Linked DNA regions of Homo sapiens. The protein of the gene in region 3 purifies or fractionates together with the protein of the main gene of each other region. This does not show direct contact. Each region holds a gene or a part of one and is shown on either strand. Other genes may lie near its edges.

Region 1 (8,721 bases), on a different chromosome or scaffold from region 3:
GGCAGAAGGAAGAGGATCTTACAAAGAGTAGGAGAAAGGGAGAGGGGCAGAGGCTGCTTCTCAGAGCCAACGAAGGACAAAACGAGACAGGTGTGAGCCCAGTGGAGGAGGCACGGGGCAGGGACCAGCCACTGTTGCTGGCACACTGGTGCACGCAGCACCGTGGCAGATGGACCTGAGAGAAAGCAGGAGGGACAGCACAGTGGAGCCAAGAAAGGGCTTAGCATGGCCGGGCACGGTGACTCACACCTGTAATCCCAGCACTTTGGGAGGCCGAGGCGGGCAGATCACCTGAAGTCAGGAGCCTCGAGACCAGCCTGACCAACATGGAGAAACCCCGTCTCTACTAAAAATACAAAATTAGCCGGGCGTGGTGCTGCATCCCTGTAATCCCAGCTACTCAGGAGGCTGAGGCAGGAGAATTGCTTGAACCCAGGAGGCAGAGGTTGCAGTGAGCCGAGATTGCGCCATTGCACTCCAGCCTGGGCAACAAGAGCAAAACCCTTGTCTCAAAAAAAAAAAAAAAAAAAAAAAAAAAAAGCTTAGCAGAGGAGTAACAGCATCAGATCTGGCTTTAGAGCTTCCTACAGTCAACCTCAAGGAAAATGCAGTGAGACAGTCTGGAAGCAGAGAAACCAGTCTGGGAAGTTCTTGTGGTCATCCCAATAAGAAATGAGTGCTTAACCTAGGCAGTGTCCGAGGGGCTGAAGAGAAAGGAGTGGAGGCCAGATGTGGTGGCTCACGCCTGTAATCCGAGCACTTTGGGAGACCAAGGCGGGCAGATCACCTGAGTTCAGGAGTTTCAGACCAGCATGGCCAACATGGTGAAACCTCATCTCTACTGCAAATACAAAAATTAGCTGGACATTGGTGGTGGGAGCCTCTAATTCCAGCTACTCAGGAGGCTGAGGCAGGAGCATCGCTTGAACCCGGGAGGCAGTGAGCCAAGATCATGCCACTGCACTCCAGCTTGGATGACAGAGTGAGACTCAGTCTAAAAAAAAAAGAGAGAAAGGAGTGGAGCTGAGAAAGATGCTCAAGGTAGGGGAGTAAATGATTGGAGGGAGGAGAAGGAAGCACCTAGGATGACTCAGTTTCTGGCTTGACCAAATGGGTGGAAGATGGTGACATCTGTTAGATTTAACTGGGGATGTACTAGGTGTAAAGTCTGAGAGGAAAGATGACAAATGCAGCGACTGTTAGCATCTGTGGTGCGTTCATATGAACCTGAGGAGGTAAGAATGCAAGAGGGAAGTCTACACTGGGTGGTGAGAATCACCAGGTGGGAGGCAGGAGTTAAAGCTAGAGAAAAAACGGAGAGATCAAGAAGAATGTAGGATGAGGCTCCTAGGAGTTCGATGTTTAAGGGATGGCAGGAAGACAAACCTTGGAGATGGATAAACTGCTGGAAAGGTAGGAAGAAAGCCCAGAGAGCAAAGTCACAACTATCCAGCCACTTCTCTTCCCAATACCCCAGACACCTCCCTAGATGAGGACAGCCAGGGCTCTAAGCTCTCACCTGGAAGCCCGACCCTGATAGGAGAAACCTTGTCTCTTGAAATAATCAACTACATCATCGGAGCAGGTCTTGAGAGTGTTCACACGCACAAATCGAGGCAGCTGGGAGGCTACGTAGGACGCAATGAGCAGTGAGTAGGCAGGAGCAAAGTTCCCCGCCTCCCCCACCCCCCAACTCCTTCCAGCTTACCTGGACCAGGCCTGGATCCCACTTCCAACAGGTCCTCATTCCGGCTCACACCCCGATGAACCTTGAGCCGAGCCAACTCAGCCTTGAGCCTCGCCTGGTGCCGGCCCAACAGAGCCTTCCATCGGCCCCCACCCCCTCGAAAGCCCTTTCCCAACAACAACTCATACACTAGCACCTGGGAATGAGGGAACAAAGACAAAAACAAAAATGCCCTAAGCATGAAGCATGAATGCCTTAGAACTAACTCTAATGGAGCCCCGGCAATGGAATGGCTAAACAGATCACCTGACAAGATACAGGTGGGATACCTTATCCAAGATCACACCAGAAATTAACTACAGAACAGGATCGGAACCTGGCGTCTCGCTTCCCAGCCTTAGACCCTTTCTCCACCGATGTTCACCAGTAGACACCTCTGCACCCAACTTCTTGCCAACATTACCCTTTCGTGGGTTTGGGTTTTCTTTTTAGAATGGGGTCTAGCTCTGTCGCCCAGGCTGAAGTGCAGTGGCCAGATCATAGCTCACTGCAGCTTCGACCTCCTGGGCTCAAGTGATCCTCCTCCCTCAGCCTCCCGAGTAGCTGGGACCACAGGTGCGCGCCGCCACGCCCGACTTCCTTACAGTCTCCGCCACTACCACTTTGTACTTCGGTTATTTAATCCTTCAAAACACTCAAAGTTAAAGCATTTTCATCCCATCTTAATTCGTAACCCAGGGAAGGTCGGCTCATACTCATTTCAGATGAGCGACTTGCTCCAGTCCCGCCGTGCACGGCAGCAGAGCTGAGACCAGATGACAAAGCGCTGACCGTCGGGGTTCACTTCCCCGTCCCTCCCCTCCCCTCACCTTGGCCAGGTGCGGCCGCAGCTTCTTCTCCGCACGGAGGAGGCCGGCGCTGGCGATCACAGCATCCAGCACGGCGGAGTAGCGCTGCGTTTCGCACACCAGCGCGTACAGCTGCTTCACGTTCTGTGTGGCCGAGGAAGACAAGCTGGGTGGGGGCTCCCCCGGCCCTCCTCGCCGGGCCCCACCTCCCGACCCCACCCGGGCCCGTCCGACCCCACCCCGGGTTCCTCACTCCCCACCCCTACTACTCGCGCCCAGGTCCGCTACCTGGAAGTTGCTGGAGTACACCAACCCCTTGATAGAGCCCTGGCGGCTCTCCACGCCGGCCAACACGCCTGCAGCTGCAGCATACAGCCCCATGTTCCCGCGCGCCTTTACGGCTCTGTGGCAAAACGCACCCGGCTCGGCGCCCGCCCGGACTTCCGGGGTCAAAAAGCACGACCTTCCGGGACCGGAAGTGCCGGTCGAAGTCGCCCTGCAAGGCGTGTGTGTGATCGCGCACCTGCCGGGGTAGGGAGTGCGACGCTGCAGCCCGTTTCGCCACTTCTTCTCTAGTTCTTAAGTTTTTGCCAATCTGATGGGCAAATAATGGGATTTTACTGCTGTTTAACTGAAGTTACTGAGGTTAAATATCTTCACATGTGTATTAGTCATTATATATATATATATATATATATAATTTTTTTTTGACACAGAGTCTCACTCTGTCGCGCAGTGTCGCAATCGCGGCACACTGCAACCTCCGCCTCCCGGGTTCAAGCAATTCTCCTGCCTCAGCCTCCCGAGTAGCTGGGACTACAGGCCCACGCCACCACACCTGGCTAATTTTTGTATTTTTAGTAGAGATGGGGTTTCACTATGTTTGCCAGGTTGGCCTTGAACTCCTGACCTTAGGTGATCTGCCCACCCTGGCCTCCCAAAGTTCTGGGATTACAGGCATGAGCCCCCGCGCTGGCCATAATTTTGTGTCTCCGTTTATTGTCTTATCTTCCTCTGCCATGTGTCATCCAATGGCTGTGTTCTCAGGGAGGCTTCTGTGTAATGGCAAAAAAGGTCCTAGCAACTCTAGGTCCACAATGTGGTTTACAATACCTGCCATTCACCCTGCACCAGTAACCACATTAGTCCCAGAGCCAAGCAAGAAAGCACGTGGGGTATTTGGGTACCTGAAATGGGCCGGTTTGGCCAAATTAAGTGATGTAGGTATGATCCAGGCCTCAAAGCCACAATAACGGTTTTGTTTTTGTTTTTGATGAGGTCCCACTCCGTCACCCAGGCTGGAGTGCAGTGGCACCGTCATAGCTCACTGCAGCCTCAAACTCCAGGGCTCAAGCGATCCTCCCACTTCACTCTCCAAGTAGCTGGGACTACAGGCATGCACCACCACTCCTAGCTAATTTTATCTTTTGTAGAGATGTGGTCTCACCATGTTGCCCATGGATGGTCTCGAACTCCTGGCCTAAAGTGATCTTCCCACCTCGGCTTCCCAAAGCAGTGATTACAGGCATGAACCACTGTGCCCAGCGAGGATTTTATTCTTTTATCTTGAAAGAAATGGTAGTCCTCTTAAGGTTTTTAAGTCATGGAGTGCTGTGCTAACATATACTTCTTTAAAAGATCAGTCTGGCCAGGTGTGGTGGCTCACACCTGTAATCCTAGCACTTTGGGAGGCCAATGCAGGCAGATCACTTGAGGTCAGGAGTTCAAGACCAGCCTGGCCAACATGACAAAACCCCGTCTCTACTAAAAATACAAAGATTAGCCAGGCATGGTGGTAGACACCTGTAATCTCAGCTACTTGGGAGGCTGAAGCAGGAGAACCATTTGAACCTGGGAGGCTGGGGTTGCAGTAAGCTGAGATTGTGCCACTGCACTCCAGCCAGGGGGATAGAGCAAGATTCTTTCCCCAAAAAATAAATAATCAGTCTGGTTACAGTGTGGGGATATAGGATGGAGGGGGCAGAGTTGAGGCAGGGAGAGACCAATGGGGGTCATGGGAGTCACCTAAACAAGAACTGGTGGCCTGGACTGAGTTGGTGGCAGTGGAGTTAGGTTGAAATTGGCAGTGTGACCGCTAAGTTAAATCCACAGAACTTGCTCAGGAAAAAGGACAGGTCGAGAATAACTCGTAGGTTTTCAGTTTGGGCAGTTCACACAATGCTGCTGTGTCTTTTGGTAGGATGGGGAAACGTGGGGTGATGGAGTGAACAACGGCCACCCAGAGAGAGCAGGTCCTAATTCCTAGAGCCTGGAAATGTCACCTTCTATGGAAGAGATCTGTAGGAATGATCAGGGGAAGGATTTGGAGAGAAGGTTATCCTCGATTATCTGGGCAGGTCCTGCATGGCATCACCAGTATCCCTATAAGAGAGAGGCAGAGGAAGGACAAGCGCAGTGACTCACACCTGTAATCCCAGCACTTTGGGAGGCCGAGGCTGGCAGATCCCTTGAGCCCAGGAGTTCGCAACCAGCCTGGCCAACATGGTGAAACCCCATCTCTACTAAAAATACAAAAATTTGCCAGGTGTGGTGGTGCATGCCTGTAATCCCTGCTACTCAGGAGGCTGAGGCAAAAGAATTGCTTGAACCTGGGAGGCGGAGGTTGCAGTGAGCTGGGATCATACCACTGCACTCCAGCCTGGGCAACAGAGCAAGACTCTGTCTCAAAAAAAAAAAAAAAAAAAAAAAAAAAAAAAAAAAAAATAAGAAGCAGAGGAAGATTAGACCGGCACATACAGAAAAGGCCACGTGAAGACGGAGGCAGAGATTGGAATGATGCGGCCACAGGGCCAGGAAACACCAGGGCATGGCAGCCACCACCTGAAGCTGAAGAGGAAAGGGGCAGGTTTTCCCCGACAGTCTCCAGAGGGAGCGCGGCCTTGCCGTCATCGTGATCTTGGACATCTGGCCTTCAGAACCATGAGAGATTAAATTTGTTTGAAGCCACCAAGTTTGTGGTCATTTGTTACAGTAGCCACAGGACACCACAGCCACAGGATAAATCTCAGGGATGGGGGAGTAGGAAGATCATGAGCGCGGTTTTGGACATGCCCTTGACGTCCAGGCGGAGCTGCTGAATGGCTGGAGCGCTACTGGATGTGGCATGTAAGGGACGGGTCTCCCGGAGAGGGAACTTCTGAGTCATCCCTGTGGAAGTGATGACTGGAGCTATGGGTGTGGAGGGGTAGACAGCCAGAAGAGGAGCCTGGAGGTCCTCAGGCCATGAGTGGCCAGGAGGAGAGGCTGAATCCTTGAAGGAGACTGAGGAGAGGAGGGAGGAAAGTCAGGATTGTGGGGAGGCTGAGGGTTGCTGTTTGCCCCAGCTAGTCTCCCTCAGGCCCTCTTATTGGTCTGTGCACCCAGTTTGACTTCCAGTGGCCAGAGCCAGCATCTTGGTTAGAGGGCTACCCCAGAGCTTCCAGGACCCACTTAGCCTGTGGGTATGGTGAGTCAAAGGGGCATGACAGCCTAGGCACAGTGGCTCACACCTGTAATCCCAGCGCTTTGGCAGGCCAAGGTGGGAGGATTGCTTGAGGCCCAGACCAGCCTGGGTAACATAGCAAGATCCCGTCTCTACTAAAAATTTAAATATTAGCTGGGTATGGTGGCAGACACTTGTTGTCTCAGCTACTCAGGAGGCTGAGGCAGGAGGATCACTTGAGCCTGAGAGGTCAAGGCTGCAGTAAGCTACAATTGTGCCACTGCTCTCCAGCCTGGGTGACAGAGCAAGATCCTGTCTCTGAAACTAGACTCGAGGCTGGGCACGGTGGCTCACGCCTGTAATCCCAGCACTTTGGGAGGCTGAGACAAGTAAATAATTTGAGGTCAGGAGTTCAAGACCAGCCTGGCCAACACAGCGAAACCCCATCTCTACTAAAAATACAAAAATTAGCTGGGTATGGGGCACATGCCTATAATCCCAGCTACTCGGGAGGCTGAGGCAGGAGAATCACTTGAATCCGGGAGGTGTAGGTTTCAGTGAGCCTACATCGTGCCACTGCACTCCAGCCTAGGTGACAGAGAGAGACTCCATCTCAGGAAAAAAAAAAAAAAAAAAAGACTCGAGCATAAAGCAGTATGTATAGCAACTAATATGTGCAAATCATTTAAAGAGAAAGAAATAATGTCAAATTTATTATCCTTGATAGTAGTTGAAAGTTCACAGTAATATGGAAAAGGTATACATGGGACTATTTCTGCCCTCGGAAGCGTCTGCGCAGATAGCATGGTTAGCAAGTGGCAGGAACCATGGGGATTTCAGTGTGTCCCTGGCTGCCAAGGCCTGGGGGCCGAAGTTTACAAATACACCCTTGGCTGAGGGGAAAGGGACTGGGGTCCTGTTCCCTATCATTACATGTTCCAGGGACACACAGGCCTGAAGACCTTCCTAAACAGTGACGATATCACCTCAGGCGGGACCCAGCAGAAGCCCGCGAGTCCCCGGTGCCCCGCCGGGATGGGCCTGTGGGCCGGCAGGACTCCGGGCGGCCCTACAGCTTGGTGGGCTGCTCGGGGCTGAGGGGGCCAGGCCCGCTGGGCGGGGGCAGCACCATGGGCAGCGAGTTGCTGCCCCTCTCGTGCCAGCAGGTGTCCAGGATGGGGTAGAGCTTGCCCTGGAAGTCGGCCTGGAAGGTGTAGAGCGGCCGCAGGTCATCGGGGCGGTCGGCATCGAAGAAGGTGAGTTCGCCCTGCTCATAGTGCAGGTAGAGCCCGATGCGGTGGGGGTGGCCGGCCACGGGCAGGGGTACCCGGGGGCAGGCAAAGGCTTCGTACACCCGGCCCTCCTTCAGGCCGATCAGCCACACGCCGTGCTCGGGGGACCTGTTCAGCTTGCCCTTACGGCTGGCTGTGCCCTTGATGACCCCCAGGCGCCAGTCGCTCTTGCTGCCCACCACCACCTCCCAGTAGTGGCGGCCGCAGGAGAAGCCGCGGCTGGCCAGGACGCAGGTGCTGTAGTCGAAGCGCTCAGGCTGGCTGGCTCGCCGCTGGGCCAGAAGCCCGCACTGCACCACCGTGTTGCCCTTGGAGAGCTCCAGGAGTGGGTGGGCAGTGGCAGGGTCCAACTTGAGAGGCTCCGGGGCTGGGAGGGAGATCACAGAGGGTCTGTGAGGCCACGTGGAGGGCAGCAGACCCGGCCCACAGAAGCTGATGGAGGCCCTGAACTCCCCAAGGAGAGGGGCTGTGTCTTCCTCATCTCTCTAGCCCCAGGGTCTAGAAGGGGCCAGTACAGGGCTGCTCCCTGAATGAATGAATGAATGAATGAATGAATGAATGAATGAAGTTTTACATAAGGAAGATCAATCACAGACTGATTGCATCCACCCAAGGCAAAAACAGTGTTTATATAAAAGGGAGCAGCTTGGTGGGCTGTGGGGGGCTGAGGTGGCTGGAGAAAGAAATGGACACTGGGCTCGGGGTTCTGGCCTGCCTGCCTGACACAGAGGTGTTGTGGGAAGGACCCGGAAGACACCTGTCCTGTGAGCCTATAGCTCAGCCCTCAGGGATTTCTGGAGAACCCATAACAACTGCAGCTGTTGGATTTGCTAGCCTAGTCAGCCTATTCAAGGACGAACTAGCCCACCTGAGCTTTTTGCTAGTTACCAGCTGATCCGTTTACCCCAGAAATGTGAGATGTGCTCCCCCCTGCCCGCCTCCCACCCCTTCCCGCCACCCAAGTTGCCGCAAGGAAAGAAGGCCAAGGGGAAGAAGGTGGCTCCGGCCCCTGCTGGCGTGAAGAAGCAGGAGGCCAAGAAAGTGGTTTATCCCGTTTGAGAAAAGGCCTAAGACTTTTGGCACTGGACAGGACTTCCAGGCCAAAACGGACCTCGCCCACTTTGTGCAATGGTCCTGCTCGGTCAGGGTGCAGTGGCGGACAGCCATCCTCTATAAGTAGCAGAAACTGTCTCCTGCTATTAACCAGTTCACCCAGGCCCTGGACCGCCAAACAGCTATTCAGCTGCTTAAGCTGGCCCAGAAGTACAGACCAGGGGCAAAGCAAGAGAAGAAGCAGAGACTGTTGGCCCTGACTGAGAAGAAAGCTGCCAGCAAAGGGGATGTCCCCACTAAGAGGCCACCTGTCCTTGGAGCAGGAATTAACACCGTCACCACCTTGATGGAGAACAAGAACGCTCAGCTGGGCCAGGCACAGTGGCTCATGCCTGTCAT
Region 2 (7,927 bases), on a different chromosome or scaffold from region 3:
ACATTTGGATGGAATAATTCTTTGTTGTGGGGGACCATCTGTGCATAGCAGAATATTTAGTATAATAATAGCATCCTTGGCATCTAACTGCTAGACACCAATAATACCCTTCCTCTTTCAACCAAAATGTCACTGCCAAATGTGGGGGAATGGTGAGGTTGGTGGAGGCCCATGGAAAATATATCCCCCCTACAACCACTGAGACCCACTACTGAAACAAAACAAAACAGTTCTATCTTAAATTATGAGAAGCACAGGGTATACTGATCCAAGCCCCTAAGGGTGCCTTTTAAAAAGAGAAAGGCAGAATAAACAGTGAAACTTTAGAGGAAAAGCTAGAAATACATATCCATAATAAATGAAGAATTCTAAGTGTAAATATAGAGAAATATATACAGACACACATGAACATCCATTGTGAAAACTTCAAGTGTCCAAGTTGCTGTGCTGAAATTTTGCTTAATAAACTACTACCCAAAATGAGTCAATGGCCTCAATGTTACATTGATTATTATCAAAGACTCTTTTTTTTCTTTTTTTTTTTTTAGACGGAGTCTCACTTTGTCGCCCAGGCTGGAGTGCAGTGGCATGATCTCGGCTCACTACAAGCTCCACCTCCCAGGTTCACACCATTCTCCTGCCTCAGTCTCCTGAGTAGCTGGGACTACAGGCGCCCACCACCACGCCTGGCTAATTTTTTGTATTTTTTAGTAGAGACGGGTTTTCACCGTATTAGCCAGGATGGTCTCGATCTCCTGACCTTGTGATCCGCCCGCCTCGGCCTCCCAGAGTGCTGGGATTACAGGCGTGAGCCACCGTGCCCGGCCTCAAAGACTCTTTTTTAAAATATAATTTGCTATCAAAGGAGGCATTAGATTAAATTACACCATACATACCTTCAAATTTGGCATTCACCATAACATACAAATGCTCTCCTAGACAGTCACTTCGGTCCCTGGATAATGCATGTAAACTAATGGTGGGGTATTCCAGTGAGAATCCTAATCCAGAGCCATCTAACCAAGACAGGCGGCTGAAAAACATGTTTTAAGTAGATTATTTTTAGAAAGTAAATCCTCATGTAAGACCACAAAGTATATAAAAGTTCAGCTTGGACACCTTTATGCATATAAATAAATTCAAGTTTACTTTTTTAGAAACGTTCATAAAATAAGAAAATTCAGTAGTGGAAACTGAGTTTTCTTTAAGATCAATTCTGTTACGGTCTCTTTCCCTCTAGCTATAAATTCAAACAGACTTGAAATTCCATTTTCCTCAGTCACATGTATGTTTCTATGACTTTCATGCTTACTCTTTTTTGGTATGTCTTCAAATACCCTCTTTGCTTTTGCAAATCCTCCCCTCTTCCATGAGGCCTCCCTTCAACTACACCAGTCCATAAAGATCTCTTCCTTTTCTGATTTGCAAATTTTAGCACTTAACTCTGTGGTAATGAGTCTTATATGTGCCCTTATGGAATGTGAACTATCGGACAGCAGAACTTGTCACATTCCTTTATTAACATCCTTCAAAACCGTTAACAAAGAGCTCAGGAGTTAAGTATGCAATAAATCCTTGGTAATCATGCATTTCTCCATGAATCCTACACTAAAAGACATATATATGAAATGGCTGTAATCACACTCACCGCAAGTCAGGAAATAATTATTACCCTGAGAGACAGATTCCCTGAAGCCTTTCATTTATTCAACGTCTTTAAGAGAAAGCCACAGAAAAGCTAGATCTAGTTTTCCCTCAAATGTGGTCAAATGCAAATATTTTATTGGTGTAACAAAGGAAACACATCACCAAAATCAGTATTTTGAGCTTTCAGTAGAGGCTAGCTAATTTTCTGATAATACTTCATCCATCTGGAGCTGTACCACTTAGCAGAAAAAAAGTAAAAAATCCTGAAGAAGTCAAAAAAAAAATGTTAATGCAATATAGTGGTTGCCTAGGGCTAGAAGGAAATAGGGAATGTCTGCTACTGGGTACCAGGTTCTTTTTGGGGTGAAGAAAATATTCTAAAATGGTGGTGATAATTGCACAATTCTGTAAACAGACTAAAAACTAGTGAATTGTATGTTTAAATGGTTAAACTGTATGCTATATGAATTATTTTTAAAAGTTAATGAAGTAAGACCCCTGTATCATTCTATATTCTATACAATTTTAACAAGCCTGGCTGTCTAATTTCTAACCAAGCAAAAACAAAAGTAAAACAGGAGAACCTAGGACTGCCTTGGGCAGGAACAATGACAGTGTGACAGTCTGAGATCACTCATGTTCAGTGGAAGGGGAGGATGAACTTTCCACCTCAGTTCCCCTAAATGAAATCAATGTCTAACCACATGACCCTCAGTTACCGAAAGCATTACCAAAAACAAAGGCAGATTATTAGATTGTGGTGATAACTGTACAACTCTGTAAATATACTAAAACTTACGTAATTGTATACTTTTTTTTTTTTTTTTAGACAGAGTCTCGGTCTGTCGCCCAGGCTGGAGTGCAGTGGCGGATCTCGGCTCGCTGCAAGCTCCGCCTCTCGGGTTCACGCCATTCTCTTGCCTCAGCCTCCCCAGTAGCTGGGACTACAGGCGCCCGCCACCACACCCGGCTAATTTTTTGTATTTTTAGAGACGGGGTTTCACCGTGTTAGCCAGGATGGTCTGGATCTCCTGACCTCGTGATCCACCCGCCTCGGCCTCCCAAAGTGCTGGGATTATAGGCATGAGCCACCACACCCTGCCCCTAATTGTATACTTTCAAAAGGCAAAAGTAAGAATATATGCACTGTCATGTGGAAAGATTTCTATCCAACATTCTTATTAAAAAAAAAAAAGTAAAGGAAAACTAGGAAGCTTATAAGTGATAAATCTTTGTTTTTTTGAGATGAAGTCTCACTCTGTCACCCAGGCTGGAGTGCAGTAGCATGATCTTGGCTCACTGCAATCTCCACCTCCAGGGTTCAGGCGATTCTCCTGCCTCAGCCTCCCAAGTAGCTGGGATTACAAGCGTGTGACACCACGCCTCGCTAATTTTTGTATTTTTAATAGAGATGGGGTTTTGCCATGACGGCCAGGCTGGTCTCAAACTCCCGACCTCAGGTGATCTGCCACCTCGGCCTCCCAAAGTGCCAGTATTACAGGCGTGAGCCACTGCGCCTGGCCTAAAAGTGATAAATCTTAAAGAGCTAAAAGTGATAAAACCTCTACAAATTGTTTTCCAGAACAACTCATTCCTACTGGTTCCAAAGAAACATTGTATTATGTAATGAGGTTATGTGCTGTATGCATCTTTCCTGCCCACTGCTTTCCTTTTAATGTGGAGAGGAAATAATGCCCAAGTATCACGAGTCCCCTACAAAAGCTGTATTATTTTAAAGCAAATAAACTGCCCTTTTCTGATCTCAAAAATTTTCTGGCGTTATCACAATTCAGAAAGAAACATTCCAAATTTGGGTGTCCAAAATAATTTCAAATATCCAGAGCCATAAAACTTGAATGACTCAATGACGACATGGAAAAACTGAAACCTAAACATAGAATGAGTGCCTATCAAATTATGGCCTTCACTTTTAAAAGCCATCATAATACCTCTGTAATTCCTTACTAGTGCAGAGAGAATACAAATGCTCCTCTGCACAGCATTTGCTATGGAACTCTCATAATCTTTTACATGAACTGGGATTATGCATTCTATAGGACAGAAGCCAAGTTCCACACTTAAAAACACTTATTCTAATCGTTAAATTCTTTTTTTTTTAAATAAAAAAAGAAAAGAAACCCTAGGTTTCTGTATTTTACTTTTTCAGATTTACAAATGCAAATCATATATTAATATTCACAGATATTTTTAAATGGGAAAACAACTTACTTTCAACAACTTATTTTTTCCAACAGCATGTTACTATGTTAAAAAAGATTTGACATTATAAGCCGAGCGTGGTGGCTCAGGCCTATAATTTTGGGAGCATTTTGGGAGGCCGAGGTGGATGGATCACCTGAGGTCAGGAGTTCCAGACCAGACTACCAACATGGCGAAACCCTGTCTCTATTAAAAATACGAAAATTAGCTGGGTGTGGTGGCAGGCACCTGTAATCCCAGCTACTTGGGAGGCTGAGGCAGGAGAATTGGTTGAATCCAGGAGGCGGAGGTTGCAGTGAACCAAGATCACGCTACCACACTCAAGCCTGGGCAACGGGGAGACTCCATCTCAAAAAAAAAAAAAAAAAAAAAGAGATTTGACAGTACATTCATTTAATCTGGCAATTTTAATTTGAACAAATACCTATTAACAACAAATTAAATCCTATTGCACATGAATTATTTGTTGCACCACCACCAGATTTTCTAATTCTAGCAGAGGCCACGATGAAATAGGCCAGACATGCTGCCATTAAAGTTTGCTGGGATGATTGTAATAAATCTACTGAAAGTATTCAAGTTCTAACTTTCAAAGTGATGTAGAGAAACATAAAAGATTTCACTGTATCATCTAAAAATATAACTGTTTTGTCTGATCATTAAATTCTGATTTGCATTTACTCTTTGTATATATTCTAGAAGAAATCCTTCTAAAACATTTAATTAATCATACCCAGTTCCAAAGAAACCGTGAGTCAAAAGGGAAAGACAAGAAGAATTAGACACAGAGTAAACATGTAGAGAACATGTTTTGCTGAATTCAAATGCTTTTGCACAAGTATGGTGAGTGTCCTTTATTCCCAGCACGGGATGAAAAACAGGACAGGAAGCTAAGAGAGGTCTTGAATTTGGGTTAACTTAATTATTTGGTTTAAGATTAATTTTGGAATGAGATACAAAAAAAAAATTTTAAGTTTAAATTACCTAATTTTAATTTGATTACCTATTTTACCTGTTTTAAACTGTCTATTTTATATTATTCATGCCTCTGTATCTTCCTTATTTGGATAAAAATTCAACTTCCTGGCCGGGTGCAGTGGCTAACACCTATAATCCCAGCATCTTGGGAGGCCGAGGCAGATGGATCATCTAAGTTCGGGAGTTTGAGACAAGTCTGACCAACATGGAGAAATCCCATCTCTGCTAAAAATACAAAATTAGCCAGGCATGGTGGTGCATGCCTGTTAATCCCAGCTACTCGGGAGGGTGAGGCAAAAGAATAGCTTGAACTCAGGAGGCGGAGGTTGCGGTGAGCCAAGATTGCGCCATTGCATTCCAGCCTGGGCAACAAGAGTGAAACTTCATCTCAAAAAAAAAAAAAAATTCAACTTCCTATAAAAAACTAAGCTCTGAAATAAGCCGGAGATTCTAAATCTTTCAACACAAATCTGAGAGACTAAACCAAGTCCAGCCAAACCTAATCTGTTGCTGTCCCTCTCTGCCTCAAACTAAATAGTTTCACCAAAGCCTAAAGGCTATAAGCCAAATTTATGAACATGACTCTCTCCTTCTCCAGCTTTATCATCTCTGGGCATTCTCCCTCACTCCCTCAGATGAAGAACGGCTGGACTGTATATATATGTACACAGTATGTGTGTGTATTTATACCCTTTTTTTGTATTTATGTTTCACACACAAAAAAATTATTTTGGCCGGGCACGGTGGCTCATGCCTGTAATCCCAGCACTTTGGGAGGCCAAGGTGGGTGGATCATGAGGTCAGGAATTTGAGACCAGCCTGGCCAACATGGTGAAACCCCGTCTCTACTAAAAATACAAAAATTAGCTGGGCGTGGTGGAGCACGTCTGTAGTCCCAGCTACTCAGGAGGCTGAGGCAGGAGAATCGCTTAAACCCGGGAGGCGGAGCTTGCAGTGAGCCAAGGTCGCGCCACTGCACTCCAGCCTGGGCGACAGAACAAGACTCTGTCTCAAAAAAAAAAAAAAAAAAAAAATCTTAAAGAAGAAACATAAGAGATTTGTTTGTGAAAAGCTGAAACAAATAATGTTTAATTTTTTTCAGAGACAAGGTTTCACTCTGTCACCCAGGCTGGAATGCAGTAGTGTGATCACAGCTCACCGCAGCCTCAACTGCCCAGGCTCAAGTAATCCTCCCACCTCAGCTCCCCATAGTAACTGCCACTACAGGCACGTGCAACCACGACCGGCTAATTTTTGCAGTTTTTGTATTCTTTGCAGAGATGGGGTTTTGTCATGTTGTCCAGGCTGGTCAAGAACTCCTGGACTCAAGGGATCTGCTCACCTTGGCCTTCCGAAGTGCTGCGATTACAGGCGTAAGCCACCTTGCCCAGGCTAAGAATTTTTTAAAAGCTGATAAGAACTTAAAAAGAGTTATACTTCCTTAGTATGAGAATTGTATTGTGGTTATACAAGATAATGTCCCTGTTCTTCTGAACAGGAAGTGGAAAACGTCGACAATTCTCAAATGGCTCAGAAAAAAAAGAAAAACAGAGACATAAACATGGCAAAATGTTAACTAATAAATCTTTGTGAAGGGTGTATGGGTAGTAATAACACAACTTTTCTTTAGGTTTGAAATTTTTCTTTTTTTTTTTTTTTTGAGACAGTCTCACTCTGTCACCCAGGCTGGAATGCAATGGCATGATCTCGGCTTACTACAACCTCCGCCTCTCGGGTTCAAGCGATTCTCCTGCCTCAGCCTCCCAAGTAGCTGGGATTACAGGTGCACGCCACCACACCCGGATAATTTTTGTATTTTAGTAGAGACAGGGTTTCACATTGTTGGCCAGGCTGGTCTTGAACTCCTGTCATCAGGTGATCCACCCGCCTCAGCCTCCCAAAGTGCTGGTATTACAGGCGTGAGCCACCACACTGGATCTTAGGTTTGAAATTCTTCTAAATGCAAAAATCAATACAGGACTGTCCCTCAAAAGGAGTTATAATACTGAAAGAAGCGTCAACATACAGAAATGTCATGAATAAAAAAGGAATGCCTGGGAACTAGGAATGTATCTGTGCTCCATCTTCCACCACTTCAAAGAAACTGCTTTCCCCAATTATCAAAGATCTCCTTGTCAATACTCAATATATGCTCTTCACATTTTGTTTTGACTGCTCCTTCCTCCTTTCTCAAGTTTCTTCTTTCATGACCCACCCGTCGGCGTATCCCTAGGGTTCTACACTTGGTCCTCTTCTCTTCTGAGATATCTAATCCATTTCCATGAGTATACACTAACACTTTAACGACCTCCAAACATCTCTCTTTAATACCACTTTCCCAAGATACACATTCTTTTTTTATTTTTATTTTTTTTTTGAGACAGGGTCTCACTCTGTCATGCAGGCTGGAGTGCAGGGGCACAATCACGGCTCACCGCAGCCTCGACCTCCTGGGCTCAGGTGATCCTCCCACCTCAGTTTCCTGAGTAGCTAGGACTACAGGCCGCCACCATGCCTGGCTAATTTTTGTATTTTTTGTAGAGACTGGGTTTCGCCATGCTGCCCAGGCTGATCTCAAACTCCTGGGCTCAAGCGATCTGCCTGCCTCAGCCTCCCAAAGTGCTGGGATTACAGGTGTGAGCCACCGCGCCCGGCCCAACACGGTCATATGTACAACTACTCCACACATGTCCTGACCAAACTCATTATCTGCCTCTCACCTCAATCTTGCTTTTCCTCCCATCCATATGTCCTATCTCAGTTTCTGGCCTGAAGCCTAAACCTTGTTCAATGTCTAAATTTCCCTTTAAAGCAGAGGTTCTTTACAGTTTTTGTGCTCTGGATTCTGTAGTAGGCAGAATTTTGGCCCCACGACCTTCACTTTCTGGTGTCATGCGGGTGAATATGTTATATTACACAGCAAAAGGGACTTCACAAACGTAATTAAGGTTACCAGTCGACAGTAACATAGGGAGATTATCCTGGATTTTACAGGTGGTTCCAAAGTAATCACATGAGCTCTTAAAAGTAGAGAATTTTCTCTGGCTGTAGACAAGTGATGGAGCAAAAGGGGAAGCAACAC
Region 3 (7,927 bases):
ACTAGCTCAAGTATTATTATTTCATCAATTCCAATTTAAAATCTTAAGAGGATATCAAATGGGATTACAAACCTATTAATTAGGAAAAGTTAAATCTTTAAAACACAGAATCTTCCTATCTTGAAATGTATTGTAACCTCCACATTAATCAATTTTCTTTTACATTCCTGTAGTGAAGTTTCATCTTTATCCTAAGACAAGTGTTGTTTCTTGTAAGGAATATATATGTAGATATTGTGGTTCATTATGAAAATGATAGCCTTCAGTAGTTCAAACTCATAAATAAAATCAAAAGGAAAATCACAAATAATATAACAATTATTGCAAAAATGTATGACAAAGAAAATAAAGTATGGTGCCCAGGCTGGTCTCAAACTTTTGGTCTCAAGTGTCCCAAAATGTTGGGATTACAGACATGAGCCACTGTGCCCAGCAAGAATTCTTTAAAAACCAGTAAAATAATACTTAAGAGCAAAAAGAGGTAACTAAAAATTCACAGGACAAAATACAAATGGTCAACAAATATGCTGAAATGTTAACTTCATTAATAGTCAAAAGAAATGAAAATAATAAAATATTACCTTTTGGCTCACACACTGGCAACAAATTTTTTAAAGCCTGCTAAAAATCAGTATAATCACCCTGGAAAGTAATTTGGCAATATAAAACTTTAAAAGCTTATGCCTACTGGTCAGTTATTAGGCTGCTAGGACTCTTAAGAAAAATAATCAATAATGATGACAAAGATATATGTGTAAACATATTCAGTGAAGCCACTGATAATAGCCAAAAAGGAGAAACAAATGCAATATCGAGTAATTATTCATACAATGGAATAATTCTGAATCCAATGATTTTTTTTTTTTGAAGAATATGAACAACAAACAAATGTTCAGGAAATATGTGAAAAAGAACAGAATATAAAACTTTATATAATATTCCAATTGTGTATGTACATAGAAAAGAAGCCAAAATATAAAACAAATTAACAATTGGTGCTTCTAATTGAATTATATATTATTTCATCGCCTACAACATAAATCACTCCCCTTTATTTGTCCTTAAAAGCATCTCTCTTCATACTTTAGAAGGAACTTCCTAGTTCTAGCACTTCAAAAAGAACATTATAAATTATTTTCCATCAAAACTTTGATATAGTTAAACCTATAAGATAACCATCAATTATAATTTCTATTTATTTCCCGTTCAGATAAGCACTTCATAAATGTTTGCTGACAGATTACAAAAATTGTGCGCAAGGACTCACTCACCTCGACTTGATCCCTTTAAAAATCTCTAATACATAAGCTGAAGGCTATAAAGGAAGGATTAATACCATTAGTGATACTCTTGGTTGGTTTCTACTAAAGTTCTCTAATTTCTATCTCCTATAAAACAGGAACCCCTCCTTCTTACTTCAGAAAAAGTATTCTAAAATGGCAAGATCTGCATGAGTTTAGAGTCAGTCAGATCTGGGTTGACAACTGAACTCTGCCCCTTACCAACTATGCTACAAGTCAAGCCAGATTCCTTATCTATAAGGTGAAGATACCCTGACTCACAAAATTACTGTGATGAGACATGCAATAAAATACTAATTAGAGATTACTAGATAAACATACATTCTCCCATCACTCTTCCCCTCTCTCTCTTCTTTATCTCATCAGACTGATTTCTGTCAACTTTCCTTCTGAAGGCTGATTCAAAAGTTAATTTAGATTAACAGAATCTTCAGAGGGCTTTGGACACTGAACATAAACAGGCACTAGAAAACAGAAGAATGCCAGTCCAGTCCAACCAAAAAGGCTGGCTTGGGAAGTCACACTAAAGTGGTCCTTTTGAAATACAAAATATCCTAGAGAATGCCAAGATTCAAAAGAGACTTTTGAAGACAAAGTATTCCCAATAATCCATCCCCAAATCATAATGCCTCTACTTCCTTTCTTGTCCTTGTAAGTAACCTTTTAATAAACAAAGGAAAACCGTTAGACATTTTACTCACTGAGATACTGCCATAAGCCATTAGGATGGGGTTGCTGGGAAGTGGAACCTATGAAGAAATTATTAAATCAAGTCATTAAAAAAACTGAGACTTAGGTAGCACTTGTTATAGACAGAGTGGTAACTGTATTTTATAATTTTGAAAAGGGAAAAAAGAGACCCTAAAAAACTGACAGAGTGTAAAAGAATTATCAAACCTGTTAGTTTCTATAGTACTCATGAATGAGCTTGGACAATGTATTTTATCTAGAAATCTGAAATGGTTACCCTGCCTCCCAAACCAACATAGAACGTGGGTTTCTACTCAAGACAATAATCACCTCAATCTGTAATTTCCTTTCCTTCGCTTTCATTAAGACCAAGTTCCCTTCTTCCCACACTTCCTCAATTTCTTCTAATATAGTGAGTTGGAAAGATTCTATTCCATTTATTGCATATCCTGATCTTAGTTAATAAATCCCAAAACAATGGTTTTTCTCCTTGGGAATTCCCTTTATTGATACTGTAACTTACTGTACTCTCTTATTACCTCTTTCCCTGCAGCTTTACAAATGGCTTTGTGTTCCTTCATTTTTGCAGTTTCTTCTCGGTACAACTCAATAGCCTCCATAATCCTCTCAGCCTACAGAGGATGAGAAAGGAAAGAAGTCATCACAACATACTCCATCATCCCAGGACACTGAAACTGGAAGAACTGACCAGAAATTTGCCAAATGAAATAGCTTCAATCTGTTTAATAAAGACGTGCGAATAGAGTGCCAAAAAGCATTTAAAGACATTTTTGGTTTTCTTATTTTTTAATGTACAGGGAAGAGACTGAGTGTCATGGACTCAGGTGGGATGATATCTAGACACTCTGAATAGGGCAGGTCCCAGGAACACCTGAAAGGAGCACATATTGATCAAAGAGATTCAGGACTACTCCCATCTTTGGTTACAAGAGAAGGAAACAGGTTATAATCCCCATCTTTAAATCTCATCAACTTTTTGCCAAAAAAATGGCTTTCTGGTTGATACAGAATAAAACTTTTACTAAAAAGTTGAGATCTTATTAAAAAACGAGATACCACATTCTATATCAACTTACTGCTTTCACTGTTTCAATAGTTTTCTTTCCAGTAAAGTAACTGTCACCTTGAGTCTCTCCTGGAACCTGCCAGAAACAAAGAAATCCTTGAATAACACTGTTGACTGTTGAGTTAAAGAGCTGATAAATTAATCTTACATCCATATGAGAACAGCTATTATTATTTTATGAAAATACTAACAGTGTTATCAGCTACCAGTAACAGAACTTAGCATATGTATTATTGTAAGAACATCCTGCAAATGTTTAAAAAGAGAATATCCAAATTTTCTAATTTTTATTTTTGTGCTACAGTGAATAAAATAATTCCCTAAAGTCTCAATTGACAGAATAATTATTCAGTAGCAAATTTGGTCAATCACTTGAACCACAAAATTAGGATATACAGTTGAAGAGAAAGAATTACACAGATTCTTTATCAGCTGGTGATACCTGCAACTTCTAGCCTCAATTTTAATTCTATTAGAAATTCTGGACATTATAGTCAATTTCAATAAGATAACTATATATGGGGCATAATCTCAAGGTCCCCAAAATTTACTTACTGCTGGTTGGTCTTCTTTGGCCACACTCTCCTCATATTCTGCTTCTCTTTCCTGCCATGAGATAGATATACATTAATTTGAGAGAAAAAAACATGGTCTCTATATGAAGAGAAATGAGGAAGCGAGAAGCTGCTCCTTTGACAACATAATACCCTAATGGCATCTTTATCTCTGCCTAGCTTCTGAAATGGGTGACAATGGTCTTGAAAAGATCTCCTGAAGGTTCTTGGACTTGGCAATGCATCAGGTGTAACTGCACTAGACAGAAAACTTCAACTAGGACAGCCTGTCAGATACCTACTGGCATATTTGTAACCAAGCCTAAAGTTCTTACCATCTCCCTTTCTTCCTCAAGAATAAGAGGCTCCCTTGTTCTCTCCCAAAGTCTCAGAGATTTGTCATGGGACGATGATACAACATAGTCTCCACTGGGGCTTACAGCCAAACACCATATTTCCTGGTGATGACCCTGGAGGAGAAAAAAAAAATAAAGAATACCTCATTCATTGACCACTACTTAGTGGGTAATGTAAATATTCTTAAAAGTATTTCTTAAGTACCAAGCAAGCACAGAAGGCATGTGGTTACCTCCAGAGTCTGTATGTGTTCAAATTTGTCTGCATCCCACTGTTTAATCTTATGATCTTTTCCGGCAGTGAAGAAGAGGTGAGACTTGGGTACAAACTGTAGGTACATCACACTGAAAAGTGACAGAAATATTAAAATGTCATCAAATTCCAGGTTAGTAAAAAGAGTTTTACACACATAAATAGCTTTTGACTAGCTAGTTCTAGGGTGTCTGACTATATTTTAGAACTTGTATCACTGCCTGAGAACACTGAAAAATAGACACAGATGCTCAAGGAAAGTGATAACTTACAGGTGACTCAAAGGGAGACATTTGAAAAGACTATACATACCTGTCATCATGTGCAAAGAGAGACTTGTGGCAGTCCCCAAAGTCCAAACCCCAGATTTTCACATTCCTATCAGCGGAGCCAGTTGCTATGAGTGCTCCATCCTATGAGAAATAAAAGTAAAACACTACCTTGATTTTTGAATTCCGTATATGAATAAAAAGCTAACCAGAATATTTAACCCATTTCTTTCAAACACATTAAAATGAAGCCAAAAAACTGATTTTCATCTCTACTAAAAACACTGAATTCTTTGCTCTTACCTACAGAGGAACTTAAAAAGCTTGTTAAGTAAAAGCACGAACTCTGTGGCTTAAATACTTTCGTACTGTCACAGGGCAGTGCTGTGCCTTGACATAGGGTTATCTATTTACTTCGTTAGATAGGAAAAAGATTTTCTAATCTCTGGCATGGGATTTGGAAAGAAAGTGGGAGAAAGAAACAGAAGAGAAGCTGAGAAAGACTCTACTAGAATGTTTATGTAGCCCACATTCCCTATCAGTATTTCTCTTATCTCTCCTATTTCAATGCGTGGTCCAAATGGTTGTCAACATAAAAAAAAAAAAAAAAAGAAATACATTTAACATTGTAACTTAACTTTGTTAGTGCACTGACCACAGACAGCTATGAGGTCAACTCCTTTCACACAGAATAGACTTTTTTTTTTTTTTTGAGACGGAGTCTCACTCTGCAGAATAGACATTGTTTTTAATATACATTGCCACTCCTAATCAAAACTAGGTATTGGGAAATAAATGATTTTGGTCAAGAGACCAAAAGTCTACATAGTGTAAAATACCGTAACTATCCAAATATAAATCCGAGCTCCTCAGCAGCATTATCCTTCAGAATAAAAAGGAATGCCTTTTTAAAGTCTTTCATATTTTAGTGTACTCTACCAATTATAGTATTTTAAACAATAAAGTACTATTTGGGAGAGCTACAAGAGGGAAAGAGATAATATTTATAAGGATTGATTGAGATGATATTTGCAAAATTATTCTGAAAACATTAAAGTAATATATATAAGATACAATATATATTAATTTGAGACTGTTTTTGGAGAAAGATATATAACAGAATGATGATAAAAACAAATAATCTAAGATGAAGACATCAAGCCAGAATTAAGAAAGTATCTGCTGTAAAAAAGACAACATATTACTGAGACACTATTTAAACTACTTACATGAGAGATGTCCATGCATATAACAGGCAGTTTGTGTCCATACAGTGACAGAAAAAACTAAACATCAAAAAAACATAATTAATGTCTGTCTATAAAATATGGGTATAATTTATTACATGTAGGTCTAAAATATAACTTTAAACACATTTTTAAATTGCTTTATATCTGTATTTTCAAAGACAACCCACAAAAGACAGCTTGGCAGGAGTACCTGTGTCCACTACACAGACCCTCCATGTGCTTGCCAAGAATACTGCAGTATAGTGGAGGCAAGGAAGCCCCCAGAAGCTTACTGCCTCAGTCAGATCTCTGTATCTCCTCACTGAAAAGATTCCAGGGCATTTGTTTCACAAAAAAATTTCCCAGGCCCAACCTGGTCCTATCAACTCTCTGGGTATAGGGCTCAGTAATCTATATTTTTAAAAGCAACCTAGATGATCCTAATATATAGCCAAGTGTGAAATCACTGCCCAGGACACCTAGCAATGCTCTTATAACTACTTAGTATGACAGAATTTTCTGTCCACAAGATTTTTTGAACATATGAAATATAACTTGCTTTAAACAAAATTCATGAACCATAGAATTATTTTAAAATGCTAGCTTCCCTAGCATAGTTACATTGCTTTGATTCACACACACATTTTTAGAAATGTACTATCGCTGGGCACAGTCAAGGCCACTTCTTTATAGCCTCAACCCAAATTCTTAAGGTCAGTCAGTCAGAAAGGGAAAATATCCGCAGGCATAACCACTGTACCTTTAAAGTATCAACGTAGAAAATTTTCACAGTACAGTCCAGCAAAGACACAGCCAATAGCTTTTGATTGGGAGAGTAACTGACACACAGAACATCTTCATCTAGTTGCAAAGTTCGGGTTTGCTTCACAGAAAGTCTAGCACCACAAAAAACATCAAGAAAAAATAAATGAGTATACAAATTCAGACAAATCCTAACTCTTTAGAGCACAACAAATGATATAAGACGTCAAAAGGCCATTCCATAGCTCCCCATTTTCACTCCAAAAAATGGACACAAAAAATGTCTACTCACCTCTTTTGGGTACTATTTTCATCTTTCACTAACTCAAAATCCCAGAATTTGACAGATTTATCTGCACCACCTGTCACAAAGCCACGCTGAAAATCAAATGAAATTTCAATTAAAAACTATTTTAGCATAAAAACTTTGCTATGAAGATACATTTTAAAAGTCTAAGAAAGTATTTTTATTTAACGTCATGGGATAAAAATTAAGAAAAACGTGGTTCTCCCTAGCCCCTTTCACTGATCTTTTGGGTCTGCTGCCACAAACCTTATGTGAAAATTCCTACCATCGACTAACATAGGCAGAAATAATAACTAATGAAAAGTTCTAGTTATACTATTATCTAGCATCAAGAAGAAACAAAAACTCTCAGTAAACCAGTTTGAAAAATATACATAGAATGGATAATCTAGATTTGTTTAAAGTATTCACCTCAGAAGGATATAAATTTAGTCCTGCAATGTCCCTACTTAAAATAGTTTTGAAGCTGTTTTCCGTTATCAAGAAAATTAGTCTCATTACATGGCAGTGTTAGTGTAAAGTACATAGAACACTGGATCTCAAGTGTCTGTCCCTCATAGATTTATAACACAGGAAACAACCTTTCCGTAAATCCCTAGTTTTGTTGAAAAAAAGACCACACAGTTTATGGAAAAGATAGAACACTCTACAAATGCAAGATTTATTACTATTTTAGACTCACAGCTGTTTCGTTTGGACCCCAAGTGGTATTAAACACTCTAAACTTCAGTGATTTTTTCCAAAACTAAGTTCTACTTTCAACGGATGAAAATTGTCTATCATTGAGAATATTTAAATAAATGGGCCAAAATTTCTTAAGGTGTTGTCAAAAAAAAAAATCTCAAGATTTTCTAAGCAACAGCACCATTATTAGAATAAGCATACTTTTGCCAGGAACTGCTCTGAAGGTGAGCACATATTTATTGACTTGTAAGGGCTGACATACTTGCTAAAACTACTTAGCTTATACAGTCATAGATGTTTGTTTGAGGAAAAAAGGGGAGCAGCAAAGTCTATTCAGTTCTCTGCATCATGTTGCCCAAGAGAATATTCCCCCTTAAGAAGTATTACAAAACATTGGCAAAAAAATCATGATGGTAAGCAATTTGATGTCACGCT
Region 4 (7,927 bases), on a different chromosome or scaffold from region 3:
TATACATGCTGGATTTTTAAAAATAATTCAATCTTTTTTCAAAACAAAAACCTCTGCACCCAGCCATTTAAACACATAAAGATCTATGGGGCCAGGAAAGGTGGATCATACCAGTAATAACAGCATTTTAGGAGGCTGAGGCAGGAGGATCACTTGAGCCCAGGAGCTCAAGACTAGCCTGGACAACAAAGTGAGACCTCATCTCTACTAGACATTTAAAAAATTAGCCAGGCATGGGCTGGGCGCAGTGGCTCACGCCCGTAATCCCAGCACTTTGGGAGGCCAAGGTGGGTGGATCATGAGGTCAAGAGATCGAGACCATCCTGGCCAACACGGTGAAACCCCGTCTCTACTAAAAATACAAAAATTGGCTAGGCGTGGTGGCACGCGCCTGTAGTCCCAGCTACTCAGGAGGCTGAGGCAGGAGAATCGCTTGAACCTGGGAGGCGGAGGTTGCAGTGAGCCGAGATCGCACCACTGCACTCCAGCCTGGTGACAGAGCGAGGCTCCATCTCCAATAAAATAAAATAAAATAAAATAAAATAAGCTAGGCATGATGGCATGTGTCTATAGTCCCTGCCACTCTGGAGGCCAAGGCAGGAGGATTGCTTGAGCCAAAGAGTTCGAGGTTGCAGTGAGCTATGATCATGCCACTGCACGCCAACGTGAGTGATAGAGCAAGACCCTGTCAAGGAATGGGACAGGGATGGGGACAGGGACAGGGAATGGAAGGGGAAGGGGAAAGGACTGCTTGAGGTCAGGAGTTTGAGAACAGCCTGAGCAACATAGCAAGACCCCGCATCTCTCAAAAAAAAAAAAAAAAAAAAAAAACACCTTAGCTAGCCATGGTGGTGCACACCTGTGGACCTAGCTACTTAGAAAGCTGATGTGGGAAGGTCATTTGAGCCCAGAAATTTGAGGCTGCAGTGAGCTATTATCATGCCACTGCTCCCCAGTCTGGGCGACAGAATGGGACCATGTCTCTTCCAAAAAAAAAAAAAAAAAAAAAAAAAAAAAGCCAGGCATGTTGGTTCATGCCTGTAATCCCAGTATTTTGCGAGGCCGAGGTGGATGAATTGCTTGAGTCTACGAGTTCAAGGCCAGCCTGGGAAATAGCAAAACTCCAACTCTACAAAAAATACTAAAATGGTGGTGGTGCATGCCTGTGGGGCCCCAGCTGGGGTGGAAAGATGGCTTGGGTACGGAAGGTGAAGGCTGCAGTGAGCCGAGATTACACGCCACCCCAGCCTGGGTGACAGAGTGAGACCCTGTCTTCAAAAACAAACAAATGACGTTTTTAGTTTTGGAAAATTTGAAAACATCTTAAGTGCTTATCAACAAGGAATTATTTAAATCAGCAGTTCTCAAAATGTGGTCTGCAGACAGGCAGGAGGCCCTAAGATCCATTTTCATAATAATGCTAAGAAGGCACTTTGCTTTTCAGTATTCACATTTGCACTAACGGTGCAAAAGCAACAGTAGTTAAATCTGCTGGTGCCTTAGCAAGAACCAAGACAGTGACACAAAACTATACGAGTAGTCACTGTACATTTATTACTACCAACTCTCACAGTACTAATAATGTGAGTTTCATATAAGAATGCCTTTGGGCCAGGCATGGTGGCTCACACCTGTAATTCTAGCACTTTGGGAGGCTGAGGTGGGTGGATCACCTGAGGTCAGGAGTTCAAGACCAGCTTGGCCATCATGGTGAAACCCTGTCTCTACTAAAAATACAAAAATTAGATGGGCATGGTGGCAGGTGCCTGCAATCCCAGCTACTTGGGAGGCAGACGCATGAGAATGAACCCAGGAGGCGGAGGTTGCAGTGAGCCAAGATCGCACCATTGCACTCCAGCCTAGGCAACAAAGTGAAACTCCGTCTTGAGAACAAAAAAAAAGGAATGACTTTGATGAGGCAATAAACATTACCAGTTTCATTAAATTTCATTCTATTTCCATATTTTTCATAATCTGCACAAAAACCACTTCCACTACTGTAAAACAAAATACAATATTTAGGCAATTGTCTGAACTTAAGATTGTTGCTTAAAATTTAAGCTTTCAGTAGAAAAATCAGAATTTTAGAAAGATTTCATCTGCCACTGTAAGCCTGACAACTTCCTAAAAATCAAAGACGCTTAATGAGTTTAGAGGTAATATTAATGAATTATTATTGTTTGATACTATATAAGAAAATGTGTCAACATTGGAAGATCTGCATAACTCACTGAACCATTATTTTCCAAATAAGCAGTGTATGATGTTAAAAATCTTACACAGGTAAGAGATCCATTCCAGATGCAAGACACTGACAGACCAATGGATTTTAATGTAACAAAGTAGAAAAAAATTCTTGGATATGGTTTCAGATTCCACATTGCAACTAGCCTCTAAGAAACCTAGTATCTCTTTGAGCATGTGTCCTACGAAAAAGGGGGGGGAAAAAAGAAACCTAGTAGTGTATCAAAGGAGCATATCAACAATTATTTTTAAAGGCTTTTAAAAACTATTCTCCCTTTTCCAACCAAATACCTGTGTGAGGCTGTATTGTCTTCTTATACTTCCAATGAAACATCTTAACTCCATAGACTGAAGGCAGAAACAGCTATGAAAATCCAGTTGACTTCTAAGACGGCAAAAATGCGGCCAGGTGCGGTGGCTCATGCCTGTAATCCCAGCACTTTGCGAGGCCGAGGTGGGTGGATCATGAGGTCAGGAGTTCAAGATCAGCCTGGCCAACATGGTGAAACCCCGTCTCTATTAGAAACTACAAAAATTAGCCGGGCATGGTGGCACACACCTGTGGTTCCGGCTACTAGGGAGGCTGAGGCAGAAGAATCGCTTGAACCCGGGAGGTGGAGGTCCAGCCTGGGCGACAGGGCGAGACTCCGAAAAAAAAAAAAACAGATGGCAAAAATGCTGTTCTTCCCATTATATATTTTTTATTTCAAATAATTATTTTCATTACAAAATGTCACTTAGGTTAACATGTGATAGATTTTCTAAACGAATAATTTTACATTTCTCAAGTTTTTCAGGTGAAATTATACATTTTTAAATGTGAAAAATAAAATAACATCTTAGCATTATTTACTGTAAAAATATAGTAAATAACAATAGATAAAAATCCACATAAAGCTCTGTAGAGTCACCAATAATTTTTAAGAGTGTAAAGGAATTGTGAGACCAAATACTTGAGTACTGCTGATTTAAATAAAATATCATACATCCACGCAAGTGACTACTATGCAACTATTAAAAAGTTTAAAAAAAAAAGCTTAACTGTGTGGTAAAGTTTTCCTAAAATTGATATGAAACCCAGAAACCACTGAGGAAAAGCAGTATTTGCCTACATGAAAATTAAAGACCTCTAAAAAAAAAAAAACCATACAATTCCACAGACAATGTTAGAAGACAAATGATATGGATAACCTGTTTCTTTCTGACTTAATACTCCTCCAACTTCCCTGCCTTGGGTGAGTTAGCACTCTAATATAAAATGCTTGGAAATAAACTTGAAAAGATATTCCATAACTTGTTAGCTTGAAAGTAGGGGAAAAAAAAGATAATCCAAAAGAAAAAAAATAGAAGAACTGAATAATCTGTCCTCAGATAAAAACCACAAATCATCAATATGAAAATATTTTGAAACTTCAATTTTAAAATGCAAATTGAAAATACTGAAATTGTTTTCCCAAATCAGACTGGGACCAATCTGATTGGCAACAACTTAAAAGACTAATCACATGAGTTAGCAAGGATATAGAAACCAGGAACTCTCAAACTGTTAAGTCTAAGCCAATAAAACAGAATAATGTGGCAGTATCTGCGCAAAGGTTGTTAAAGGGTAATCTTTGTTCTAGGAGATCTGAAATTTTACCCTATATATTCACACAAGTGCACAATTATGTAAGGATGTAAATTACAGCACTGTGTGTAAAAAGAAAAATCTATACAGCCATTAATGTAAACCTAATAAAATATATGGTGGTATATCAATATAATGCAAGACGGTGGTTTAAAACAATGAGGTAAAATATGCACATACAAACAGAAAAGTCAACTGTATAGACGTATGTATTAAAAAGTATACATATGTGCATTTAATACTTCTGGAATACAAACCAAATTTAACATTGACTACTCTGGGGAGTGAAGAAAGTAAAATGCAAGAAGTAAATAATGAGAAAACTGCCAAAATTGGAGCCATAAAACATAGTATTTTTCCAAATGATACTTGCTATTTTACACAAAAAGTAGAATTTATAGAGAAACTGAAGTCCCCAGAGACTTCATTTTAAGATTTAAACTTTTTTTTTTTTTTTAAACTGATGAGGACACTTAAGAATCCCTTCTTAGACTCCATTCAAGCTGTGAGGGATATATGCCTTGTTTACTTCTCCCCACAATAAAAGTGACACCAAGAACTAGGTTCACAGACAGCTAGAAGATATACAGTTTGTTTCATATCACTGAAAAAAATGAAAAAAAAATGTGGGTTTTGGTGCTACTATTAGGTTAAACTATATAAGACTGCCTCTAACGAATTGTTCAACCTAATACATGTGGTACATTGCTTCCCTGAGGAAGGATTTTATCCTTTATAGACTGTTTGACCTCTGATGTCCCACTAGCTGAGAATCTCCATTGTCTAAAAAACTGATTTGTTCCTCACTGGAGGATATACTGAACCAAAGGGTCTCCTATGAGAAAACTGCATACAGCATATTTGAACTATTTATTTCAGTAGGTCTTCCATGATGAATAAAGGAAACATTTAAAAAAATTGAGATCATAAAAAAATTTTAATAAATGAAACAATTATAAATAGACTTGTGGACTCTTTTAAGTAGAGAGTGAATGGTCTGCCCTAAAAAAAGTAAATAAAAACAAAAAAAGACAAGAAATGAACTGAAATACTTCAAGAACCTCAGAAGTTAATTCCAATTTACTTTCCTCTAGATTGTTACAATGTTTCTGAACTGCCATTTTCTTCCCACCATCAGCATTCAGTGAACTCAAGTTAATTCTCATATACCCCAGAAAATAAATAAAAACAAACCTACTGGAAAGGAGTGGGAAGAGTTGGGAAAAGCCATATAATGAACTAATACTCAATTTCCTGTTACACTATTAACTATGAAAACTTAACTAATTTTAATCTGTCCCCTTTTCTAGTCTCTCACTTACAAACCAACCAACCTTCAAACTCCACATTCCCTGGCTCTCGTTTCTCATTCTCAGTCCAACTTCAAGTCACCTGTTCTTACTCTATACATCTGTATATCTCCTATTCACTCTTCAAACTGCCCTAATCTCTTTTTCCATGTTTTATGGAACTACTCTATGGAACCTTACTAAAAAACTTTTTCCCAAGTCAGCACGGACTTTTTTAAAAGTGTTCAATCCAATGGATATTTTGACATCTTGCTTCATTTGACCTTTTTAGCACATGTGCTGTAAACCACCCTATCTTAGAATAAACCACCTTCTTGGTTTCCATGACCACCACTGTCTCTTTTTTTTTTTTTTGAGATGGAGTTTCGCTCTTGTTGCCCAGGCTGGCAGGCAATGGCGCGATCTCAGTTCACTGCAACCTGCACCTCCTGGGTTCAAGCAATTATCTCACCTCAGCCTCCCGAGCAGCTGGGATTACAGGCGTCTGCCACCATACCCAGCTAATTTTTGTATTTTTTAGTAGAGACGGGGTTTCACCATGTTGGCCAGGTTGGTCTCAAACTCCTGACCTCAGGTGATCCGCCCGCCTCCGCCTCCGCCTCCGCCTCCTGAAGTGCTGGGTTTACAGGCGTGAGCCACCGCGTTGGGCGACCACCACTGTCTTTGTATGTCCATCCTTCATAGGCATTCTTCTTCAACAAAAGCCTCCTATATGATGCTAGTATCCCCGGTCTTTGTCCTGAGTCAAGTTCACTTCTCCTTAAGGGAACTTATTTACTAATGTGGCTTCCATTATGACCAATACTTTTCAAACTAATCTCTCACATAGCTCCTTTTGAACTCAAGACTCACACATAAAACTGTCTGCTGGTCATGGGTCATCCAAGTGAAAATAGAACCCTCAACCTTAGCATATCTAAAACTAGTCTCATAATCTAACTTTCCCTTCAAACTTGCCCCATTCACAATTTACCTTGTGGCCTAACTCAGAAAACCTAGGTGTTAGAAAGCTTACCTGTTCTGTAGGGGATGTTTAATATAGTGTTCTGGGTTAGCAACCTCCTGATTAGATTCCGTTTTCTCCTCTTCTGTAGTCGGGGGATTAGGAGTAGGGGTGGTTTCCTAGTGGAAAATAATATAAAACATTATTTTAAATGTCTTAACACATCTATGACAGCAATATTCTAACTAAACCTGAACTGATATGCTGATAATTTTTTTTTTTTGAGACAGAGTCTCTCTCTGTTGCCCAGGCTGGAGTGCAGTCGTGCGATCTTGGCTCACTGCAACCTCCTCCTCCTCCCAGGTTCAAGCAGTTCTCCTGCCTCAGCCTCCTAAGTAGCTGGGATTACAGATGTGTGCCACCATGCCTGGCTAATTTTTGTATTTTTAGTAGAGACGGGGTTTCACCCCGTTGGTCAGGCTGGTCTTGAACTCCTGACCTTGTGATTCACCTGCCTTGGCCTCCCAAAGTGCTGGGATTACAGGCGTGAGCCACCACACCCGGCACTAGTAGTATTTTTTAAGAAGAAGGAATTAAAGCAGATTGCTTCATAAAACAGACCACAGACCAAACTCTAAAGAACCATTCTCTATTCTCATATCTCTTCATTAAGAGCAAAGAGCAAACGGTTTCTCAAATTTGAAAATATAACAGTATTTATAGTTATCCTTCCACTTGCACTTTTTTTTTTAAATAGCAGGAAGACTGTCACAGACTATGCAACAAAGTTGGGAAAATCTTCTATCTTTCTTAACATACCATCATATTAAGATACTGCATATGGTACTGAAGGGGGTATCAGGAAGGATACAGGATGGAAACTAAAGTTTCAAGAGTATAACAACTGTATCACTGGGCACTGTGGTGCGTCTCTACAATCCCAGCTACTCGGGAGATTAATAGGAGGATTAATAGGAGGATTGCTTGAGCCCAGGAGTTTGAGACCAGCCTGGGCAACACGGCAAGACCCTGTCTCAAAAACAAACAAAACAAAACAAAACAACATTATGATGACAAAAAAGCTTTGTAAAGTGATCAAGCCAATGATGCGCAGGTCTTACCTTCATGGCATACTGTTTACCCTATCGTAACCTAAAAGTTCGGCAACTTAATATTTTCAATGGAACCTAACAAGATGGACATTGGCTTGAACTTAAATCTTCTTTTAGGCTAGACAAAATTAACACTGTCATCTAAAAATATCAGAAAGAAAAGTAGTCTGGGGGCAGTAATTTAAAATAGGTGTTCACCACATTCTTCCATGTAGCTCTTCATACTATCATAAATTGTTGTCAACAAAAGAAGAGAGCCAAAGAAAGGCACTAGGACAAAGACTGATACCAAAAAAAGGGCAATGCAACAAGTGTTTGGATATCAGACTGAAGCAGCAAACAACAGAGATCTATGTTAACATAACAAGATATGTAAGTCAAATATTTATTGTCTAAAAGAATGCAGAGCAGAAAGGTGGTAAATATTTATTTGAAAGAATATGGGTTTTTTTTTTTTTTGTATTTTATTTTTCTTAGAGATGGGGTCTCACTCATAGCTCACTGCAGCCTCAATCTCCCTGGCTCAAGCAATCTTCTTGCCTCAGCTTCCACGGTAACTGGGACTACAGATAGGCACCATGATACCTGGCTAATTCTTTTTTATTTTTAGTAGAGACAAGGTCTCACCATGTTGGCCAGGCTGGTCTCAAACTCCTGAGCTCAAGCAATCCTCCCACCTTGGCCTCCCAAG

The links.
Region 1: the proteins of WDR3 (region 3) and NSUN5 fractionate together in Homo sapiens (co-fractionation; one large-scale study listed by BioGRID). This does not show direct contact.
Region 2: the proteins of WDR3 (region 3) and CLNS1A purify together in Homo sapiens (affinity purification with mass spectrometry; one large-scale study listed by BioGRID and IntAct). This does not show direct contact.
Region 4: the proteins of WDR3 (region 3) and EIF4E purify together in Homo sapiens (affinity purification with mass spectrometry; one large-scale study listed by BioGRID and IntAct). This does not show direct contact.

Annotation. Positions count from the first base shown.
Region 1 is NC_000007.14:73,305,875-73,314,595, forward strand, and holds the start of NSUN5 (28S rRNA (cytosine-C(5))-methyltransferase), read right to left. Parts: upstream 2,953-8,721; 5' UTR 2,917-2,952; coding exon 2,824-2,916; intron 2,680-2,823; coding exon 2,557-2,679; intron 1,884-2,556; coding exon 1,709-1,883; intron 1,629-1,708; coding exon 1,520-1,628; intron 1-1,519. Other genes in the region: E3 ubiquitin-protein ligase TRIM50, read right to left, coding at 7,047-7,636. UniProt on the Homo sapiens protein: S-adenosyl-L-methionine-dependent methyltransferase that specifically methylates the C(5) position of cytosine 3782 (m5C3782) in 28S rRNA. m5C3782 promotes protein translation without affecting ribosome biogenesis and fidelity.
Region 2 is NC_000011.10:77,628,867-77,636,793, forward strand, and holds part of CLNS1A (methylosome subunit pICln), read right to left. Parts: intron 1,034-7,927; coding exon 897-1,033; intron 1-896. UniProt on the Homo sapiens protein: Involved in both the assembly of spliceosomal snRNPs and the methylation of Sm proteins.
Region 3 is NC_000001.11:117,948,703-117,956,629, reverse strand, and holds part of WDR3 (WD repeat-containing protein 3), read right to left. Parts: intron 6,880-7,927; coding exon 6,794-6,879; intron 6,636-6,793; coding exon 6,500-6,635; intron 5,797-6,499; coding exon 5,740-5,796; intron 4,655-5,739; coding exon 4,554-4,654; intron 4,334-4,553; coding exon 4,222-4,333; intron 4,103-4,221; coding exon 3,968-4,102; intron 3,685-3,967; coding exon 3,634-3,684; intron 3,155-3,633; coding exon 3,089-3,154; intron 3,041-3,088; exon of another isoform or gene 2,624-3,040; coding exon 2,531-2,623; intron 2,051-2,530; coding exon 2,003-2,050; intron 1,543-2,002; exon of another isoform or gene 1,400-1,542; intron 1,316-1,399; coding exon 1,272-1,315; intron 1-1,271. UniProt on the Homo sapiens protein: Part of the small subunit (SSU) processome, first precursor of the small eukaryotic ribosomal subunit.
Region 4 is NC_000004.12:98,895,680-98,903,606, forward strand, and holds part of EIF4E (eukaryotic translation initiation factor 4E), read right to left. Parts: intron 6,304-7,927; coding exon 6,197-6,303; intron 1-6,196. UniProt on the Homo sapiens protein: Acts in the cytoplasm to initiate and regulate protein synthesis and is required in the nucleus for export of a subset of mRNAs from the nucleus to the cytoplasm which promotes processes such as RNA capping, processing and splicing.